2 linked regions of the Homo sapiens genome follow. The protein of the gene in region 1 purifies or fractionates together with the protein of each later gene. This does not show direct contact. Each region holds a gene or a part of one and is shown on either strand. Other genes may lie near its edges.

Region 1 (4,425 bases):
CTGGAGCCAACCAGCCCAACCGGCCAGGGCAATAGGCTGTTGGAGCCTGGAGAGGGAAGTGCATTATGAGGGCTCTGTCCTAAGTCAGCTCCCATCCACCAAGGGTGGTAACGCTAAGCTTTTACTCTCTGCTTAAACCATCCAGCAAGTCATCAAAGTTACAAAAGCCCCTGCTTAGTGCGTTCTGGGTTACTTCATTGTGAAGATCAGGGGACTGAAGCTCAGCCAGATCAAGTGCCTCGCCTAAGGTCATGCAGCTTGGCCAAATCCAAACCCTTGGGTGAGTGGACAGAGGAGCGTCAGCTAGGAGAGGTGGGCGCTGGTCTTACTGGGGAGGAGGGGCCTGCCCCCTGGACTGCTGCCCTGACCTCAGCCCCATCCCATTCTGCCTAGCCCCTTGCTGGGCACTTCCCTCCCCAGGGACAGCCACAGAAAAATGATGATCTCGGCTGGGCGTGGTGGCTCACGCCTGTAATCCCAGCACTTTGGGAGGCCGAGGCAGGTGGATCACCTTAGGTCAGGAGTTCGAGACAAACCTTGCCAACATGATGAAACCCCGTCTCTACTAAAAATACAAACATTAGCTGGGCGTGGTGGTGTGTGCCTGTAGTCCCGGCTACTTGGGAGGCTGAGGCAGGAGAATCACTTGAACCCGGAGGCGAAGGTTGCAGTGAGCCGAGATCAAGCCGCTGCACTCCAGCTCTGGGCAACAGAGCAAGACTCTGCCTCGAAAAAAATAAATAAATAAGAAAGATGATCTCAGGGTCCCTACCCTAGGAGTCAGATGCACGGTGGGGCCATTCCTAGCGCTGCCTGCCCTGGACAGCGCCTGTCTATGCCTGTGGCCCAGCATCATTATGAGGAGTGCTCCCTTGACTCTGGCTGTCCTGATTTGGACACTAGACTTCATGGTCACCCTGGCCACAGGTACCCTATCCTGCATCCTGAGCTCCGCTCTTCCTGGAGTCATGGGCTGGTCTTTCCTCCTGGTGGCCTTGCGCCCCAGCTCCAGCTTCCTGACTTTTCTCTTCTGGAAATGGGAATGCCAAGTCCTATTTCATGGAGTTTTGAGAATGAAATGACTGGTGTACGGTGCAAAGTGCCTGTGAGTGCCCAAGAAATCTCTTTTATTAACAAGACACGAATTCATTCCAATTGATTTGACGGGCCACTGTTGTCACAGCAGCCGCACTGCCCCAAAGGCAGCAGTGATGTTTGAGCGCCGACTCCCCGACGGCACTTGGTCCTCACAACCACCCCATGGAGTTCATGCTAAGATCCTCGCATTTCATTTGTGTGGCAGGGACTTGCTGAGGTCCGGGGAGGGGCAGAGAGGAGGGGTGCGGCCGCCCCGCGCTTTGCACTTTCCGCGTCCTCCAGCAGAGGGGTCGGCCGGCGGGCTCAGCGTCCCGCATAATAGCCGCTTTGAAGCCCGCGGAGCGGGTGGCGGGAGGGGAGGGGAGAGGCGGGAGGGGAGGGGAGAGGCGGGAGGGGAGGGGCGAGGCGGGAGGGAGGGAGGGAGGGGCCGGCAGCGGAGGGAGGGGTGTGTCGGCCGCCCGCGCCGTTCCTCCGCCCCTCGGTCCCGCGGCCACACGCAGCTAGCCGGAGCCCGGACCAGGCGCCTGTGCCTCCTCCTCGTCCCTCGCCGCGTCCGCGAAGCCTGGAGCCGGCGGGAGCCCCGCGCTCGCCATGTCGGGCGAGCTCAGCAACAGGTTCCAAGGTAGGCGCCGCCGTCCCCGAGCAGCCACCTGTGCGCGCCGGGCGGACCGCGGGGTCCACCGCGCGCGGGAAGCGGGCGGGGACGGGGGCGCGTGGCCCGAAGAGGACCCCGCTTCCCAGGCCGCCTCTTTGTCTCCTCCAGGAGGGAAGGCGTTCGGCTTGCTCAAAGCCCGGCAGGAGAGGAGGCTGGCCGAGATCAACCGGGTAAGCCCCGCGCCCAGGGCAGCACGCGAGTCCCGAGCCGCGCGCTGCGCGGGTGCCACCTCTCCTTCCGCGAGGCCGTGCCCGCCTCCAGATCTACCCTCTTCCTTCCCTTCCCCTGGGCTTCCCTCAGGTGCCTCCCTCCGCCCCCAGCCCCGTCGCCTCCGACTCCAGGTAGGTCCGCCTCCGCCTCCCGCCTCCGGTCTCGGGTTGCAAGTTGTTACTCTTGCAACTGGGGACTGGGGAGGTGGGGCCGGGTCAGGAGCTCGGATGCCAGCCGGCTCGTGGCTCCCCGCAAGCCCGCTTGGGAGCAGCCCAAGGATTTGGCGCGGGAAGGGCCCTAGGCCAGTGATCTCTCCAGCTCAGAACACAGGCTCCGGGTCATTTGCTGGTCTGTCGCCCAGGCTGGAGTTCGGTGGCCCAATCTCAGCTCATTGCAGCCTCCACCTTTGGGATTCAAACGGTCCTCCCTCCTCATCCTCCCGAGTAGCTGGGACTACAGGCATGTGCCCCCACGCCTGGCCTTAGCTATTGTTGTTATAAGGGATTCAAAAGTACAAATAGAAGACTCTGATGGGCGTAGAGATCCTGGCACTTCCCCGTGGTCTCCAGCCTCCCGCCTCCCTCAAACACACCACTCCTCTTCACTCCAACTTTCAGGAAAGATTGCCTTAAGGGATTCAATGCTTTTCTTGCTGGTCCTGGTGGATTTCTCAAAAGAAATCTTTCCTGTTGTTGCCAGGCATCCAGTGAGAGCTCCATAAATTTACATAGATTCTAGAAGATAAGGAAAGATATCAGGACCTGTCTGGGTTGGCCAAAGCTCAAAGGCAGCACAGCCAGTGGCTTTAAAGTTCTGCAAGACCTGGGCTCAGATCTGGCCTCCACTGTGTGCCAGCTCTGTGGTCCTCAGCAAAGGGCCTCTCATCTCCAAGCAGGGCATTGTGCAGGCTCAGAGAGGGAAGGCCCGTGGCCTGCATGGCCCAGCACCCAGCATTCAGGAAGCACTCACAGAACTAGCATTATTTCCTGAGGTGGATGTCTCCCAGTTTCCTTCTTAACTGGTGGCAGAGGCACGCCCGCTGAAACAAGGCTTGGCATTCCCCCTGCAGGCTCCTCTGGTCCCCTGGACACCCAGGGTCTAAGCCCAGCTGACAGTCTGGAAGTGGGCCGCTGGTGAGGTCAGCAGAGCCCGAGAAGGCTGTGGGAGGCGGGTCCGAGCCTGGGGCCAGGTTGTGGTATTGCCTCTTGCCAGCAGTGTGCAGCCTTGATTCCCCCTTGGTTTTCTTGGACTGCTTGGATGTAGGCAGCCTGTCTGTTTTCCATCCGCTGGCTACAGGACTCCCATTCGGTCCCCAGCTACAGGGCTCTGGGGACCTCAGGGTTCCCCCTCCAGGTAAGCTCCGGCCTCCTCACCGCCACCCTCACCCTGCTTCCTGGGGGCATCTTGAGCACAACTGGAAGGTTGCCCGGACATCTGGCTGGGGTGCTCAGGGGTCTCGGATCCCTGCTGGGCTCCTTCCCAGATCACTGTGTGCCTGCCCAGCCTGGGGCTTGGCTGCTCTAGCCCTCTGGACAGAAGGCTGGAACCCCGACCTCATATAGCCCCCTGGGTCACTTGGCCAGGCGGGTTCTGAGCTGGCTGGAGCCACCCACAGCCAGCGGGACCCTGAGCCACAGACAGCTGGAGATGGGGGTGAGGTGACCATGGTTGGACAAGCCAGAAGAGCTAAGAGGGCGGGGCCAACCTAGCCCTTGGGGAGGTGGGTTGGGGGAGGGGGCGGCTCCAGGGTTGTTTTGGGAAACCGACTAGCTTGGCTTAGAAAGAGGAGGGACTTTAACAGCTGTCAGGGGCTGATCTGGGCAGCACTGGGACTAGGGAAAGTGAGCAGGAAGGAGCTGTGGTCTAACCACCTCAGGACAGCGCCCAGAGAGGGCAAGCAGCTGACCCAAGGCCACGCAGAAGCCAGTGACAGAGCTTGCAGCCCAGCGTCCTTCCCCTGCCAAGACGCTGTACTGAGACCCACCATGACAGCCCAGCCGCTGTAGGGCTGCTGAGGCCCAGGATCTGGGGCCCTGTAGGAAGGAGGCGCCAGGATCACACGGGAAGCTTGAGCTGCTTCACCACAGTGGAGCAGGGTGGCCCCACCAGTTTAGTCATGAGGTACCCACAAGCACTGATCTGTGACTCTGGGCAAGCCACTCACCTCTCTGAGCCTCCTTCTCCAAAAAGATAATGGTTGTGATTTTTTCAGTGAGACAATCTATGTAAAGCACCCAGGAGAGCTGGCTGCGGCCCTGATAGCTATCAGGACAGTTTCTTTGTTCGTGGCCTCAAGGTGCAGGGAGTGGAAGATACTCCGCCCTGGCTCATGCTGGTTGCTCAGCCCAGCAGAACCTCGTCTTCCCCAGCCTGAAATGGGAGCAGGGATCTCTGCCCCTCTGGAGTCCCTGCAACAATTAACCGATGGAAGTGGATGGAAGCTCTTTGCAGACTGTGGGGGA
Region 2 (4,568 bases), on another chromosome or scaffold:
GTTTGAGACCAGCCTGGCCAACATAGTGAAACCCTGTCTCTACTAAAAATACAAAAAAATTAGCCAGGCATGGTGGCGGGCTCCTGTAATCCCAGCTACTCGGGAGGCTGAGGCAGGAGAATCACTTGAACCTGGGAGATGAAGGTTGCAGTGAGCCAAGATCACACCACTGCACTCCAGCCTGGGCAACAAAGTGAGACTTCTTCTCAAAAAAGCAAAAAACTTAAGCTACTTGTAAAGATAATGGTATTGTTGTCTAGTATTTTATTAAAATATGGAATATTGAGTGGTTGTCATCTCTGGATGAAAGTATTTGGGGGGATTTGTACTTTTCTTTTTTTTTTTATAGATTGCCTGATTTATTTTACAATGACTATGCATTACTTTTAAAATCAGAAAAGAGTGGTAGGAGAGCAAATGCTGGAAAGATTTTCATGTGAAATGGTATGTTCAGATAAACAGATGATTATTTGGGGTAACATTAGTAATAAAATGCATTAAAATGTAGGAGGATTCTGGTGGTGGCTCTGGAGAGAATAGAATACTTCACCTTGTCTTGTAATAATAAAACCCTAAAAACAATATTTTTCCATTTGATTTTTTTTTTTTTTTTTTTGAGACGGAGTCTCGCCCTGTCGCCCAGGCTGGAGTACAGTGACGTAATCTCGGCTCACTCACTGCAAGCTCCACCTCCTGGGTTCACGCCATTCTCCTGCCTCAGCCACCCGAGTAGCTGGAACTACAGGCGCCTGCCAGCACACCAGGCTAATTTTTTGTATTTTTAGTAGAGATGGGGTTTCACCGTGTTAGCCAGGATGGTCTCGATCTCCTGACCTCATGATTCACCTGCCTCGGCCTCCCAAAGTGTTGGGATTACAGGCGTGAGCCACCCGCCTGGCCTCCATTTGATTTTTTATTGTTAGTTGACTCCTGTACTGTGAGCCATGCTAACTGTGTAGTCATTCCAATTTGGAATTTAAGGATATATCCAATGCCCATTGATCACTTTTCTTAATCGGAAATTTTTCTTTATCTAAAAAGAGGCCAAAAAGAACTTTAACTTACTTGTCATCTCACGTGGCAGAAATAAAATTACTAAGAGAAGAAATCTTCCCATTTGCATTATGACACTGCTCTTCCATGCCATCTTTAATGAGTTAAACTCAGATCTACTAAGGGAAAAATAGTGCAGTTGGTTTTGTACTTTGGTCTGCAATGAGTTCGTGAACCTTCCTTCTGTCTATTATGCATTTAAAGTGAAGTCCCAGATGAATCATCCCAGCTATAACGGTACTACTTCTAGCTTTTAATTAAACAACCCTGTCTGACTAAGTTCAAAGTACATTTAGTAGTAAGAAATTTTTTTTAAAAGCAACATAAAACCACAGGAAATAGGCTATGACAGATAGAGCAGCGTCAGGGTGCCCTGGGGAAGATGAAACCAGTCTTCCCTAGAGAAACTGATAGAATTTCATTTTAGCAGAATGAAACTTGTCTCATTCTCAGACAGTCCCTACTGAACAAAGTAATTCTTGTTCTGAAAGTTTTTCTTGGGTCATTTTTGTAAAGATGTTCTCTGATAATAGAGAGTTTTTGAGACTACTCCAAATCCCATAGATTCAAATGGTGTGTACGTAGAAAAGCCTCAATTGAAACATGGCCTCTAGTTTAAACCATGTTAATCTTGTCTTTCTCCCACTATTCTCTCTCTCTCTTCCCCTTGACCCAATGGACTAAAAATAATAAATAATAAAGGTGTCCTTTCTCCCTTCTTGCTTTTGCTTCAACTCTCCCTCTCCCTAAGATATTCTCCATTTCCATCTGGGAAAAAAACATATATTCATTACTTCCTTTCAAGAGTACTACTATAAATATAGCGAACCACATACGGAAAACTTTCTGCGCAACAGGGACTGTGCTAAACACTTTACATACATCATTTCAGTCACAATTAAGCCTCCTAACAACCCTCCTGAGGTCGTTTCTATAGATTTAAAGAGACTATGTAATTTGCCTGAGATCCCACAGACAGTAAATGTCAAGGTCGGGATTTGAACCCAGACTCCCAAGACCATGCTCTTAACCACCCTACTCTCAACCACCCTACTACCCAATCTACTGCCTAGATTAATATTCTTTTCCTTTAAGAAGCTGCTGTTAGGCTGGGTGCAGTGGCTCATGCCTGTAATCCCAGCACTTTAGGAGCTGAGGCAGGTGGATTACCTGAGGTCAGGAGTTTGAGACTAGCCTGACCAACATAGTGAAACCCCATCTCTACTAAAAATGCAAAAAAAAAAAAAAAAAATTAGCCAGGCATGGTGGCGAGCGCCTGTAATCCCAGCTACTCGGGAGGCTGAGGCAGGAGAATTGCTTGAACCTGGGAGGTGGAGGTTGCAGTGAGCCAAGATTATGCCACTGCACTCCAGCCTGGGCGACAGAGTGAGGCTCGGTCTCAAAAAATAAAAATAAAAAATAAAAAAATAAAAAAAAGCTGCTGTTAATCTTTTCCAGTCCCTGGCCACTGGGAGTTCTCTCCCCTTAACACCAGTATTAATTTACAAGAGCTGAAATATACCTATACCTACTCTACTCCTCCCCTGTCCCAGGCGTGCCCTGACAGGAGTAAGTTTCATTCATGCCAGGCTCACCCTTTCTGGCAGACAAGCCTGCATCAATCTTTTCGTAAGATGCAATTACTACTAATATTGATTCTTTTGTAATTTTAAATATTTGCCAAAAAGATTTCTATCACAGTGTTGTAACAGTGATTACTGCAGAATGTGGTCAATAGTAGAGTTTTCTCAAGCGCTCTGCACTACAAGTACTCAATAAAAACTGAGAGTGCAGGCTTCTTGCCAGACCTCACCCAGCCCTATTAAGGGGACAAATCTATGTCTTCTCTTTCCCTCCACTCCACCGAGACAGCAACTTTTCAAAATGTATTCCCCTCACTTGGCTTGTTTTTAATCTGTATGACTCTCTACTTTCTATATAAGACAGTCTTACCACTTACCTCTTGAGCTCTGAGAAGCTGACTTCCTTGGCCAACTGTTCCTCTGCCTGAAAACCCTAAATGCTTTCCCTGTTACAATCCTTTATAATACTTGAATTTGAACGCTTTATGACAGCAGGGTCAAATAAATAAGATAACTTGGGTTCAAAGTCTGTTTTTCTTTATGGAGTCTTAGAGAAGATAGTAATTGGGAAAGACATCTTCTTAAGATCTAAGTTTCTATGTCTACCTCGGTTACTAGGTGGGGCCGGATATTACTAACAGGGATGTGTTGTTCCAAGAAAGCTTGAACTTGTGCAAAAATCTGTAGCGCATCTCACTGAATATTGTCATATTTAAGTAAGATGGCTGCGTTTTGATCATCTAGCCTGGGGATTGTGAAGGGACGAGTCCAAAGAGAAGTTTGACTTTAACAGAGGTCAAAACATTGGAAGATTCTACACAACTTAAATAATGCTGGAAAAGTCTTAGTTACCACTAGTAACCCAAGCCCAGTGCATAAGCTGTACCAAGCCAGGCATGGCAGGGAGCCGTTTTTTTGTTGTTGTTGTTTGTTTTGTTTTTTGAGGCAGGGTTTCACTCTGTCACCCAGATTGGAATGCAATGGCACAATTGTGGCTGACTGAACCTCTGCTCCCAGCCTCCCAAGGAGCTAGGACTACTGGCGTGAGTCACCATGCCCAGCTAAACTTTGTTAATATATATATTTTTGGTAGAGATGAAATTTCGCCATGTTTCCTAGGCTGGTCTCTAACTCCCGGCCTTAAGCAATCTGCCCACCTTGGCCTAGGGAACAGTTTTATCCTCTTGAGGCTCTCACCTGATTGGGAGATCCTTGCATTACACTATGTTTATGGTATTGTTAACGATGCAAATTTTATCTGCCAAGTACTATTGTTCCCATTTACACAAAAATATAACAGAAGAATATTTATAGTTATCTACACATTTTAACACACTGCTGAAGCACACCAGCAATCTGCCTCTTACTAGCTATGTAACTTTGAAAAGTTATTTAACCTCCATGAGCCTCAGGATCTTCATCAATACAATGGAAATAGTAATAGTACCCTCCCTACGGAGTCACTGTGAGGATTAAATGAAATGAAGCATGTGAATCTGCCGCACAGTAAGCTCTTGGTAAACAGTAGCTCTTATTACTATTATTATTAATATAGGCTGAGCAGGGCATCCTAAATCAACACAACCTCACTATAGCATTGTTCAAGCAAAAATCAGAGCTAAGAGCAGCTCCTGTTGGCTGGGTTGCAAGCACCACCCAAACAGGTTTTGAGTTTGCCTCTCCAGGGATCCAAGATTGTCATTTTAAAATGAATTTAGCAATGGAGTGATGTTTTGGTTCTTGGTGCCTCCAAAATAGACCCTGAGACAGAGCTTTGAGTGCCAATAGTTTATTTAAAGGTGATCTCGGCCGGGCACGGTGAGTGGCTCACTCCCTTAATCCCAGCACTTTGGGAGGCCGAGGAGGGTGGATCATTTGAGGTCAGGAGTTCGAGACCAGCCTGGCCAATGTGATGAAACCCCGTCTCTACTA

Evidence for each region.
Region 2: the proteins of AIF1L (region 1) and TMIGD1 purify together in Homo sapiens (co-immunoprecipitation; one study listed by IntAct). This does not show direct contact.

What each region holds. Positions count from the first base shown.
Region 1 is NC_000009.12:131,094,941-131,099,365, forward strand, and holds the start of AIF1L (allograft inflammatory factor 1-like), read left to right. Parts: upstream 1-1,590; 5' UTR 1,591-1,689; coding exon 1,690-1,720; intron 1,721-1,839; exon of another isoform or gene 1,840-1,861; coding exon 1,862-1,923; intron 1,924-4,425. UniProt on the Homo sapiens protein: Actin-binding protein that promotes actin bundling. May neither bind calcium nor depend on calcium for function.
Region 2 is NC_000017.11:30,330,987-30,335,554, forward strand, and holds the start of TMIGD1 (transmembrane and immunoglobulin domain-containing protein 1 isoform 1 precursor), read right to left. Parts: upstream 3,072-4,568; 5' UTR 3,014-3,071; intron 1,173-3,013; 5' UTR 1,148-1,172; coding exon 1,066-1,147; intron 1-1,065. UniProt on the Homo sapiens protein: May control cell-cell adhesion, cell migration and proliferation, cell morphology, and protects renal epithelial cells from oxidative cell injury to promote cell survival.